2 separate regions of the Homo sapiens genome follow, and region 1 is linked to region 2. The links come from fine-mapping of genetic effects on gene expression. A gene starts in region 2. The other region holds a variant in brackets. All regions are shown on one strand. Distances are from middle to middle.

Evidence for each region. PIP is the estimated chance that this variant, and not a neighbour inherited with it, causes the effect. A credible set is the group of variants that fine-mapping cannot tell apart.
Region 1: its variant is the best candidate, but not a certain one, in a credible set for the expression of RHOB in whole blood (TOPMed, PIP 0.62).

What each region holds. Positions count from the first base shown.
Region 1 is chr2:20,421,463-20,426,978 of GRCh38, forward strand. It overlaps LOC105373465 (a long non-coding RNA gene), which reads right to left and starts at 3,483. Exons shown (of 5, transcript XR_001739317.2): 1 at 3,290-3,483; 2 at 1,366-3,077. RefSeq lists enhancers at 731-1,244, 3,378-3,537, 3,598-3,647. The variant G/T (reference allele first, on the strand shown) is at 3,376.
Region 2 is chr2:20,445,154-20,450,153 of GRCh38, forward strand. It overlaps RHOB (ras homolog family member B), which reads left to right and starts at 1,921. Exons shown (of 1, transcript NM_004040.4): 1 at 1,921-4,287. The coding sequence starts at 2,313. The coding sequence ends at 2,903. RefSeq lists silencers at 1,630-1,879, 2,130-2,339.

The DNA.
Region 1 (5,516 bases), 23 kb before region 2:
AGTCCATCCCCATGAGCTGGAGGCAGTGAAAGGTCAACCCCCAAGTCCATGGGTAGTCCCTTGGCAGCTGGGCGGAAACCAGCGAAGAGGCTGATATTTTGGAATGGCCGACGGCTCTATGGGTCCCAGGAAGATGAGCTAATTTGCTCACAGCGGGGCCACCAGGTCTGCTGCTTGCCTCGGTGGCTTCAGATGCTCTTTGAGCAGGCTGTGGCTCCCAGAGCTGAATAGGAGTGTAGGACTCACTCCCTTGGATGGACTCACAGAGACTGAAGTGCAAGCCAGGTGCCATATGACGAATTCCCAGAGAAGTGGAGCTGCCCAAGGGAGGGCACATGCGCTCGGCCTCAGCGGCATTAGTATGCCTTGATGGGCTCCTCAGCTGTCCGTTTCTGTCCATAACCTGGACGTCAGTGTGACTCCTCTCCCCCACCTCCCTGTCTCCCTCCCTTCCTCCTTCCCTCACTTATCCCCCTCTCCCATCTCTCCATCCATCCTCCCCCTCCACCATCCCCAGGCCCAGTGGAGGGTGACAGCTCACAGCCTGGGTCCTCCGTATCCATGCTGTGTTCTTTGTGCCCCGCCCTCCATCCGGGAGCAGCACTAGAAGGAAGGTCCTCAGCTCTTTAGGGACATTCCTGTCCTGGAGCCAAGGCCAGCACTGGCAGGGGTCCACGAACCTTGGCTGACTAGTCCTGTGGTCAGCCTTACCCTGTGGAGGCACAGAGCCAGAGGCCCTTGCTTCTGACTGGCTGCATTCCCATTGCACATGTGGGAATTGGGAAAGGCCGGGGACCTGCTCAGGCTCGCCTGGATGGCACTTCCCCAGCTCTCTGATGGGTTGTGGGGACACGGCACTTCTGGTCCAGGGAAGTGGCCCAGGACTTCCCATATCTGGGGCACAATGCTCCCATCCCACACTGGAGAATCAAGATTGCACTGCACGGAGGAATTTTTAAAGAATTTTCCTAATATGGGAGTGAGACCTTGATCCATGATGGCTCCCAGATACTCAGAGGATAGAGCCAGCCCCTTGCTGTCAGCACCAACTTCCATCCTTAGAGCTGCCGCCTCTCCTAACCCCCCACTCAGAGTCCTGGCCCTGAGTCTGGCTTCCCCGGGCTGGGAGCCACGATGATCTCTGAAAACACCATCAGTGCTGGGAACTCAGAGGAGGTTTTGGGTGCTTTAGTTCCATGCATCTGCACCAGAGCTCCCTGGGCCCAGGCCCCACCTGATGGGCCCCATTCTCCCACAACATGGGGTCTTGGTTCTGAACCTGCCCTGGGGCTGGCCCCTGCCCCTAGCTGCCTCTTTCTGGTCCCCAGCCCTGCACAGGAAGGCCATCTGCATACCCGACCTTACCTATCATCCATCGGGAAGCTTTCCGATGCTACATGCTCACTGGTTTAAACTGTTGCTCCCCCCACAGCAGGCATCTCAGCCTCCAGCTGTTTGTCAGCTGCTTCACATGGCTTCCAGCTGCTGAGGCTGAAGAAAGCTGGAGGCTTCAGTGGATGCTTCTGCGGCAAAAAGCTTGCTGGGGAGAAGCAAGCAAGCACAAAAGAGCAAGTGCCTTCTCTCCTCCTGACCTCAGTCTCCTAGTGCCCCCTATTGGAAGAACCTGCCAGAACCAGCTGACCTGGGGACATGTAATTTGCACAGATCAAGCCCCAGTAGCGCCAACCTGACAAGTGGAGATCTGGAGCCGAGACTGAATAGCCAATGGACAGCACAACGCCCTGCCCTCCTTTCCTTGCTTGGCAAGCTCTTGCCCCTGCTCCAGGCCTTAGCTCAGGTGTCATTTCTTCCAGGCAGCTCTCTCTGGACCAGTTGTCCCACTGTGGCTTCCCACAGAGACATACACACGCTTCTATCCAGCACAGGATAGAAATGATCTCTTCATGCTTCTATCTCCCTTACTTGGCAATGAGCTTCTGGAGAAAAAGCGACTTTGTCTGTCAAGTTTTGTAATTCTCAGGGCTTACTGCATAGCTCTGTACATCTTTGTTGAGCCATAGCTCCTGCAGTTGTCAGCTCTCCCCGGAAGAAGGTTGAGGAGTAGGTGGAGCAGGATGGTTTTTCTTCAGGCTGTCTCTCATCCTGGGATTCCCAGGCACTGCCCCTTCATTCTCCGACAATAATAATGATTAACATTTGTTGAACCCCTGGCCGGCACCAGGCACAATTGTTCATACTTCCCATGTATCAACTCATTTAGTTTTCACAGATTTATGAACTGAGGTGCAGAGAAGTTAAGCGACTTGCCCAACGTTACACAGTGAGAAAATGGCAGAACCAGAACTTGAATCCAGGTAATCTGGGTTCCAGAGCCTGTGCCCTTAGCCCCTATGTTATTTTGTCCAAGGAGGATAGGAATCAGGAAAATGTGGCAAACTTATAATGCTGATGCCAACAATCAAAATAAGAAGCTTCCAGAAGAAGCTGCATAAGATAGTGTCTCACAGCCATGGGTGGACATGTGACACAATTCAGGGCCCTCCCTGTGGTTGTTCAAGTTGGTAGTGACAGAGCAGAGAAGCTCCTCTTAGGAGGTGAAGTTGGCTCCAGGCTTGCGGAAGAAGAGACTGACTTGCAGAGAGATGCAGGGGTGAGAGGGAATGACAGCGCCTCCTCTCCCTGCCCTGGGTCTTGGGCCTCTGAGCTGGTGAATCCCCCTTTTGCATTGCCTCATTTAATGTCAGTTTCTCACATTTGTGACTAAAGAGGCCTAACTAATACCAACTTATAATTTACAAAGTCCTGTCACAGGTCATTGATTCTTATGCCAGCATGAGGGGGCAGGCAGGGGGTCATATCCCCATTTCCAGAAGTGAAAACTGAGGCTTGGAACAGTTAAGTGACTTGCCAAGCAGCAAGTCAGTGGCAGAGCTGGCTGAGAAGCTGGTGCTTGGCCCCTCAGGCCAGGAGTCTGTCCTCTCCTCCGCCTTGTGCTCTCATGGGAGCTATGGAGAGGGGGTCTGGGTACCACCACCTGCCTCAGTACTCGTGGCTCGGAGCTTTGACCCGGCTGTGCTTCCTCTCATTCCTCTTGCTTTGTCTTGGGGCCTATGGGGCTGGGGGAAACAGGCACAGAGCTGGAGATGGCAGATTCTAGTACTACACACTCCACACCCCGACTTCCCATCCATGGAGCTCACAGGGAGAGGTTCCTGCAGCAGCTACAAGAACACCTCCCCCCCATACCAGCAACCAGGAAATCTCCCAGACAAACTGTGTACCCGGACTGTGGAGGCCACCCACCCCGCACCTCACCCACTCCTGGTACCTCCAGGGCCTGTAGGGAAGCTCCCCGCCCCCAAACCAGCTTTGGGGCTCTCTCTCTGGCCTGGGCCCCAGCTTCGTGGGGGAAGT[G/T]GGTGTAGCAGCCTCCTCTGGCCTGGGGGCTGGGAAACCTCAGGCACCTCTGCCTCCGCAGCTGGTAATCCAGCTTGGGCTTGCCAGAGGCCAGTCAGCTCCTCTTCTGAATCTGGATTAGAATCTTCTCGACCCTGGCAGGAAGAGCAGGAGGCCTGCGGTTGGAGGGCATTTCCTGTTTACTGCTGGTGTCAGTGTTGGTCTGAGAGGTCCACCCTTCTGTGGTTAAGTGAGCCCGGACATCTCCCACCCTCCCTTCAGGCCGACTCACATCCCTCGCCTGGTCCTTGTGAGAAGGTCTCTGCTTCCTCTGGTTCAGGGGAGCAGGTTACCATCTCTGGGTTTGCTCTCCTCCCCTTGCCTGGGCTGAAATGAGTCTTTCTAATGACAGCAGCAGTGGCCTGCCCTGTTGCCAAATTTAGCAAAAAAAAAGAAGAAGAAAGAAAAAAGAGAAAAAGGATGCAGGTTAAATTTGAATTTCAGATAAATAGCAAATAATGTTTTAGTGTTAGTAGTTCCTGTGTATTATCTGCGGATCCTAAATGAAGCTGGAGCCCAGGGAGATGAAGTGTCTTTTGGGATCTGATGATGAGCAACACAGGATTCCAGCCACTCAGCCGAAGACTCTATGCCCCCAACAGTCTGCCAGCCAGTCAAGCTTGGCCACTGTGGCTGGCTGTGTCTATCCTGCTGTGACTCCTGTCCTGTGATCATAGGTGTTCCCCCTGTAGGTTGTGAGATGGGGAGATAATGATTTAACCCCACCTCAAAGAGAGGCAGACACTCCCAAGCAGTGATTTTCAAAGTTTGGTCACACAGCAGCAGCAGCAGCAGCAGCAGCAGCATCCGTGATAATTAATTTTATGAGTCAACCTGACTGGGCGATGGGGTGCCTGGATATCTGGCCAAATGTTATTCTAGGTGTCTCTGTGAAGATGTTTCTGGATGATGTTAACATGATGTTAACTTTTTTTTTTTTTTAAAGACAGCTCACTGCAACCTCCACTTCCCAGGTTCAAGCGATTCTCGCGCTTCAGCCTGCTGAGTAGCTGGGACTACAGACACACACTACCATGCTCAGCTAATTTTTTGTATTTTTAGTAGAGAAGGGTTTCACCATGTTACCCAGGCTGGTCTTGAACTCCTGGCCTCAGGCAGCCTGCCTCCTCAGCCTTCCAAAGTGCTAGGATCATAGGCGTGAGCCACCACATCTGGCTGATGTTAACATTTGAAATGTCAGGCTGAATAAAAATTGTCCTCCCCAGTGTGGGTGGGCGCCATCCAATCAGTTGAAGGCCTGAATAGAACAAAGGGCTGACCCTGCCACAAGTAAGGGAGAATGCCTCCTGCTTGACTGCTTTTGAGCTGGGACATCATTTTTTTTTTAAGTTCTCAGACTCAAACTGAAACATTAGCTCCTCCTAGGTCTTCAGCCTGCAGACTTCTAGACTGGAACTACACCAGTAACTCTCCTGGGTCTCCATCTTCCTGACTACAGATTTAGGATTTGTCAGCCTCCATAATTGTGAGCCAATTTTTTTCTGGAAAGCCTGGCTTTCCAAAGAAATATATATATGCTTATCTTTGAGACAAGGTCTCACGCTGTTGCCCAGGATAGAGTGCAGTGGTGCCATCATGGCTCACCACAACCTTGACTTTCTGGGCTTAGGTGATTCTCTCACCTCAGCCTCCTGAGTGGCTGGGCCTATGCCCAGCTATGCCCAGATAATTTTTGTATATTTTTTTGTAGAGATGGGGTTTTGCCATGTTGTCCAGGCTGGTCTTAAACTCCTGGGCTCAAGTGATCCTCCCACCTCGGCCTCCCAAAGTGCTGGGATTACAGGCATGAAGCACTGCACTGAGCCCAATTTCTTATAAATAATCTTTTTACACACACACACACACACACACACATACACACACACACACACACATGCATCTATTGGTTCTGCTTCTCTGGTGATGCTGACCACAGCATCACCTTGGACCTTGTGAGAAAAGTGCATTTTCTTGGGCCCTGATCAGACCTACTGGATCAGAAACCCTGGGAGCGAGGCTCAGAATCTGAGTTTGGGAAAACCCTGCAGGTGATTCTGCTAAGAGTTAAGTTTGCTGCTTTTAAAATGAACATTAGAGAAAAG
Region 2 (5,000 bases):
CGCCCAGGGATCACAGGCATGAGGTACTGTGCCCGGCCTGGTTAGATAATTGTTAAAGCGAAGTGTGGAACTGAGGTAAGAAACCCCCAGAAAATTCCACCTGCGTTTCTGAGCATTCGGGTTAATTCCCCACAGTCATTTACTGATCCTTGTAAATGCCAGGCATTGTGCTGGGTCTTCAAGATGCGGAGATAAGACAGAATCCTGGCCCTCCAACAACTGACAGAGACCGAGACAGAGACGGAGACAGGAGGCAACCACCTCCCGGTCATGTGGTGGGTCCCTCCTTTGCTGAAAAAACAGTTTGCAGACATTTCCCATGCAATGGATAGACAGAGCCCAGCCCATGCTGTTAATACTTTAGCACTCATGAGCCCCAGCATATGCAGCTCCTAGAGTTTGCCCCGCTCCTTCCCACCTTCCTGCTTGTGTTCAGGCTGTTTCTCCTGCCCGGGAGCCCTCCCCGACTCCCCTTTCCCCCTATCCCCTTCTTCCTCTTTTATCCGTAGAAATCGGTTGACTTGGGTCTTTCCGGATCACCGGTACTGTCATTTCATGCAGGATCTACAGGATAAATGAGTTCAGTCCTGGCGTGCATCAGGAGGCTACGCCCCAATAGAGGGGACACCCCCTAACCCGCTGTGCCCCATTTGCTAGCCCCTTACTCCTCCCCTCTTCTCCAGCCTCAAGCCTTTTCGTCTGCTCAGGGGTCTTGGGGTGGTTGGATTCTATTGAACCCGGAATATTGTACGTTCTATTGTACAATAGTGTATATTCTATTGTACATTCTATTGTACAATAGTGTATATTCTATTGTACATTCTATTGTACAATAGTGTATATTCTATTGTACATTCTATTGTACAATAGTGTATATTCTATTGTACATTCTATTGTACAATAGTGTATATTCTATTGTACATTCTATTGTACAAGTGTATATTCTATTGTACATTCTATTGTACAATAGTGTATATTCTATTGTACATTCTATTGTACAATAGTGTATATTCTATTGTACATTCTATTGTACAATAGTGTATATTCTATTGTACAATTTATCTCAGACAGTTCTCTGTTTTAAGAACCGGGATCAGAGTTCATAGTGAAAAGAGGGGCCGAAGGGGCTTCTTCCTGTCCGGTAACTTCCTCCAAGTGTTCGAGCCTCGACCTTCCCTTTCCGTTGTCAAGCTTGGGCCACTCCGCACCTCTTCCCTTAATCTTCACCTAGAGACCTAAGCTGGGGGTTGGGAAGGGTAGGGGCGGCGGGACTTGGAAGAGCCAGTTTGCAGCCAGCCGGTCGCCTCTCGGGTCCAAACCCGAGGCTGGCCCACGGCGAGTACCCGGGTGGGGCCCTAAACCACAGGAGGGGCCACCTCCAAAAGAAAAGAGAAAACACTCTTGTTTGGGAACAAAAGTGTGTGTGTGGGGTGTGTGTGTGTGTGTGTGTGTGTGTGTGTCTGTTTATTTAAAAACAAAACCACGTTAAAAGAGCTGCCCCTCCCCCACAGGCCCGACCACCCGCCGGGAGTTTGCCAGGAAGAGGGGCAATTCTGAATGGGAGTCGCCAACGCCCCACTGAGTGAAGCCTGTCTCGGAACCGCTCGCCCAGACCCTGGAGGCTCCAGACAGCCAGCTCCCGGACCCCGCGCGCAAACGCTGCGGCGAAGGAGGGGACCCGGGTACCGCCAGAGCCCCGCAGCGGCAGCAGCAGCGCGGACTCCCCGGTCGCTGCCTCTCCCAGCCCGGCGGCCTGGGCCGTCAATCAAGCTGGCCCTGCCCCGCCCTCGGGCTGCAGGGGGCGGCCAATCAGAGCTAAGCTCCGCAGCGATGAGCTCAGCCGGCTGGTTTCCCATTGGACGGCTATATTAAGAAAGTGGCCGGACTCTTTAAATAGCGGGCGCTAGGGCCGCAGCCCTCATCTGCCACCGCAGTCTGGTTGGAGCTGTTGTCTTGTATGCTCAGCGAGGCCCGGAGAGACCCGGGAGAGAGCTAGGCCGAGTCCACCGCCCGAGTCTGCTGCCCGAGCCCGCGTTACGCACAAAGCCGCCGATCCCCGGCCTGGGGTGAGCAGAGCGACCACCGCCCGGGAGCAGCGCGGCGAGACGCACGGTGCGCCCTATGCCCCCGCGCCCCCACCGCCCCCGCCGCGGCAGCCGAAGCGCAGCGAGAGAACGCGCCACCGCGGGGCCCGGGTGCAGCTAGCGACCCTCTCGCCACCTGCGCGCAGCCCGAGGTGAGCAGTGAGCGGCGAGCGGGAGGGCAGCGAGGCGTTCGCGGGCCCCCTCCTGCTGCCCGGGCCCGGCCCGCTCATGGCGGCCATCCGCAAGAAGCTGGTGGTGGTGGGCGACGGCGCGTGTGGCAAGACGTGCCTGCTGATCGTGTTCAGTAAGGACGAGTTCCCCGAGGTGTACGTGCCCACCGTCTTCGAGAACTATGTGGCCGACATTGAGGTGGACGGCAAGCAGGTGGAGCTGGCGCTGTGGGACACGGCGGGCCAGGAGGACTACGACCGCCTGCGGCCGCTCTCCTACCCGGACACCGACGTCATTCTCATGTGCTTCTCGGTGGACAGCCCGGACTCGCTGGAGAACATCCCCGAGAAGTGGGTCCCCGAGGTGAAGCACTTCTGTCCCAATGTGCCCATCATCCTGGTGGCCAACAAAAAAGACCTGCGCAGCGACGAGCATGTCCGCACAGAGCTGGCCCGCATGAAGCAGGAACCCGTGCGCACGGATGACGGCCGCGCCATGGCCGTGCGCATCCAAGCCTACGACTACCTCGAGTGCTCTGCCAAGACCAAGGAAGGCGTGCGCGAGGTCTTCGAGACGGCCACGCGCGCCGCGCTGCAGAAGCGCTACGGCTCCCAGAACGGCTGCATCAACTGCTGCAAGGTGCTATGAGGGCCGCGCCCGTCGCGCCTGCCCCTGCCGGCACGGCTCCCCCTCCTGGACCAGTCCCCCGCGAGCCCGGAGAAGGGGAGACCCGTGTCCCACAAGGACCCCACCGGCCTGCCTGGCATCTGTCTGCTGACGCCTCTGGCTTGCGCCAGGACTTGGCGTGGGCACCGGGCGCCCCCATCCCAGTGTCTGTGTGCGTCCAGCTGTGTTGCACAGGCCTGGGCTCCCCACTGAGTGCCAAGGGTCCCCTGAGCATGCTTTTCTGAAGAGCCGGGCCTCAGAGTGTGTGGCTGTGTGTCTGTTCGACTCCCCTCGCCCCATTTTCACCCCACCCCCGCCTCTGATCCCCGGGGGCGAGATTGGCGCGGGAGTGTGGCCGCGCCCCATCAGATGTTCGCCCTTCACCAGCGGGAGCTTGATATCCCTTGTCTGTAACATAGACCCCGGGTACTGCGGGAGGGGAGGGCTGCTGGGGAGGATGGGGGGATGTTATATAAATATAGATATAATTTTATTTTCGGAGCTAAGATGGTGTTATTTAAGGGTGGTGATGGGTGAGCGCTCTGGCCCAGGCTGGGCCAGACTCCCGCCCAAGCATGAACAGGACTTGACCATCTTTCCAACCCCTGGGGAAGACATTTGCAACTGACTTGGGGAGGACACAGCTTCAGCACAGCCTCTCCTGCGGGCCAGCCCGCTGCGAACCCTCCACCAGCTACCGGAGGGAGGAGGGAGGATGCGCTGTGGGGTTGTTTTTGCCATAAGCGAACTTTGTGCCTGTCCTAGAAGTGAAAATTGTTCAGTCCAAGAAACTGATGTTATTTGATTTATTTAAAGGCTAAAATTTGTTTTTTTATTCTTTGCACAATTGTTTCATTGTTTGACACTTAATGCACTCGTCATTTGCATACGACAGTAGCATTCTGACCACACTTGTACGCTGTAACCTCATCTACTTCTGATGTTTTTAAAAAATGACTTTTAACAAGGAGAGGGAAAAGAAACCCACTAAATTTTGCTTTGTTTCCTTGAAGAATGTGGCAACACTGTTTTGTGATTTTATTTGTGCAGGTCATGCACACAGTTTTGATAAAGGGCAGTAACAAGTATTGGGGCCTATTTTTTTTTTTTCCACAAGGCATTCTCTAAAGCTATGTGAAATTTTCTCTGCACCTCTGTACAGAGAATACACCTGCCCCTGTATATCCTTTTTTCCCCTCCCCTCCCTCCCAGTGGTACTTCTACTAAATTGTTGTCTTGTTTTTTATTTTTTAAATAAACTGACAAATGACAAAATGGTGAGCTTATGATGTTTACATAAAAGTTCTATAAGCTGTGTATACAGTTTTTTATGTAAAATATTAAAAGACTATGATGATGACATTTATAAAATGGCTCTTGTGGTTTAATAGTGTGTAAAAATACCCTTGTGAATTTGGAACAAGGGAGATATTCTCCTAGGCGAGATCCTTTCTTGCCAACTCCGTTTCCCTTATAGCAAATGTAGTAAATGAGGATGAAGTCCCTTTGAGAGCATGTGGGGGTTGGGTGACCAAGGGAGACCAGGTTGTTCCTGTCACATTCCTAGAGGAAGATGAGTGGATACCCCGACACCCAGTGCAAAAACTTTTGACCTATTATGTACTCAGTTCAATTGGGTGAGACCGAAGATCTTGATTTCATTCATCTGTGTGTCTTAAAAACACTTGTGTCTTTAAGTCTATTATGGGGCTTTGCTTATTCTTTGAGTCTTGGAAAGTTATCATTTGTGCATTTTAAATTTAGAAAACCTTTATTAATCGTTGGTGTGGGGTCACGCTATCAGGAAGCCTGTTTACTGGGTTCCCTTCAGGCCATCAAGGGGTTTACACAATATCCCAGGAAGTTGTAGGTTGTTATCTTTGGGCCTGGAGCTTCCAGAAGTGGGGGAGTTCAGATAAAGAGGTGATTTTTTAAAATTATCAAGCTTTGATCCCAATATGTCCTTTATTAAGTAACCTAGAATGATTTATTCTAAGTTCAGAGAAGGGCCATATTGTGGAAAGAACATTGGATGTTTTGGTGGTTCTTAAAGTTGGAGCTGCCACTTTTTGAGAGTCA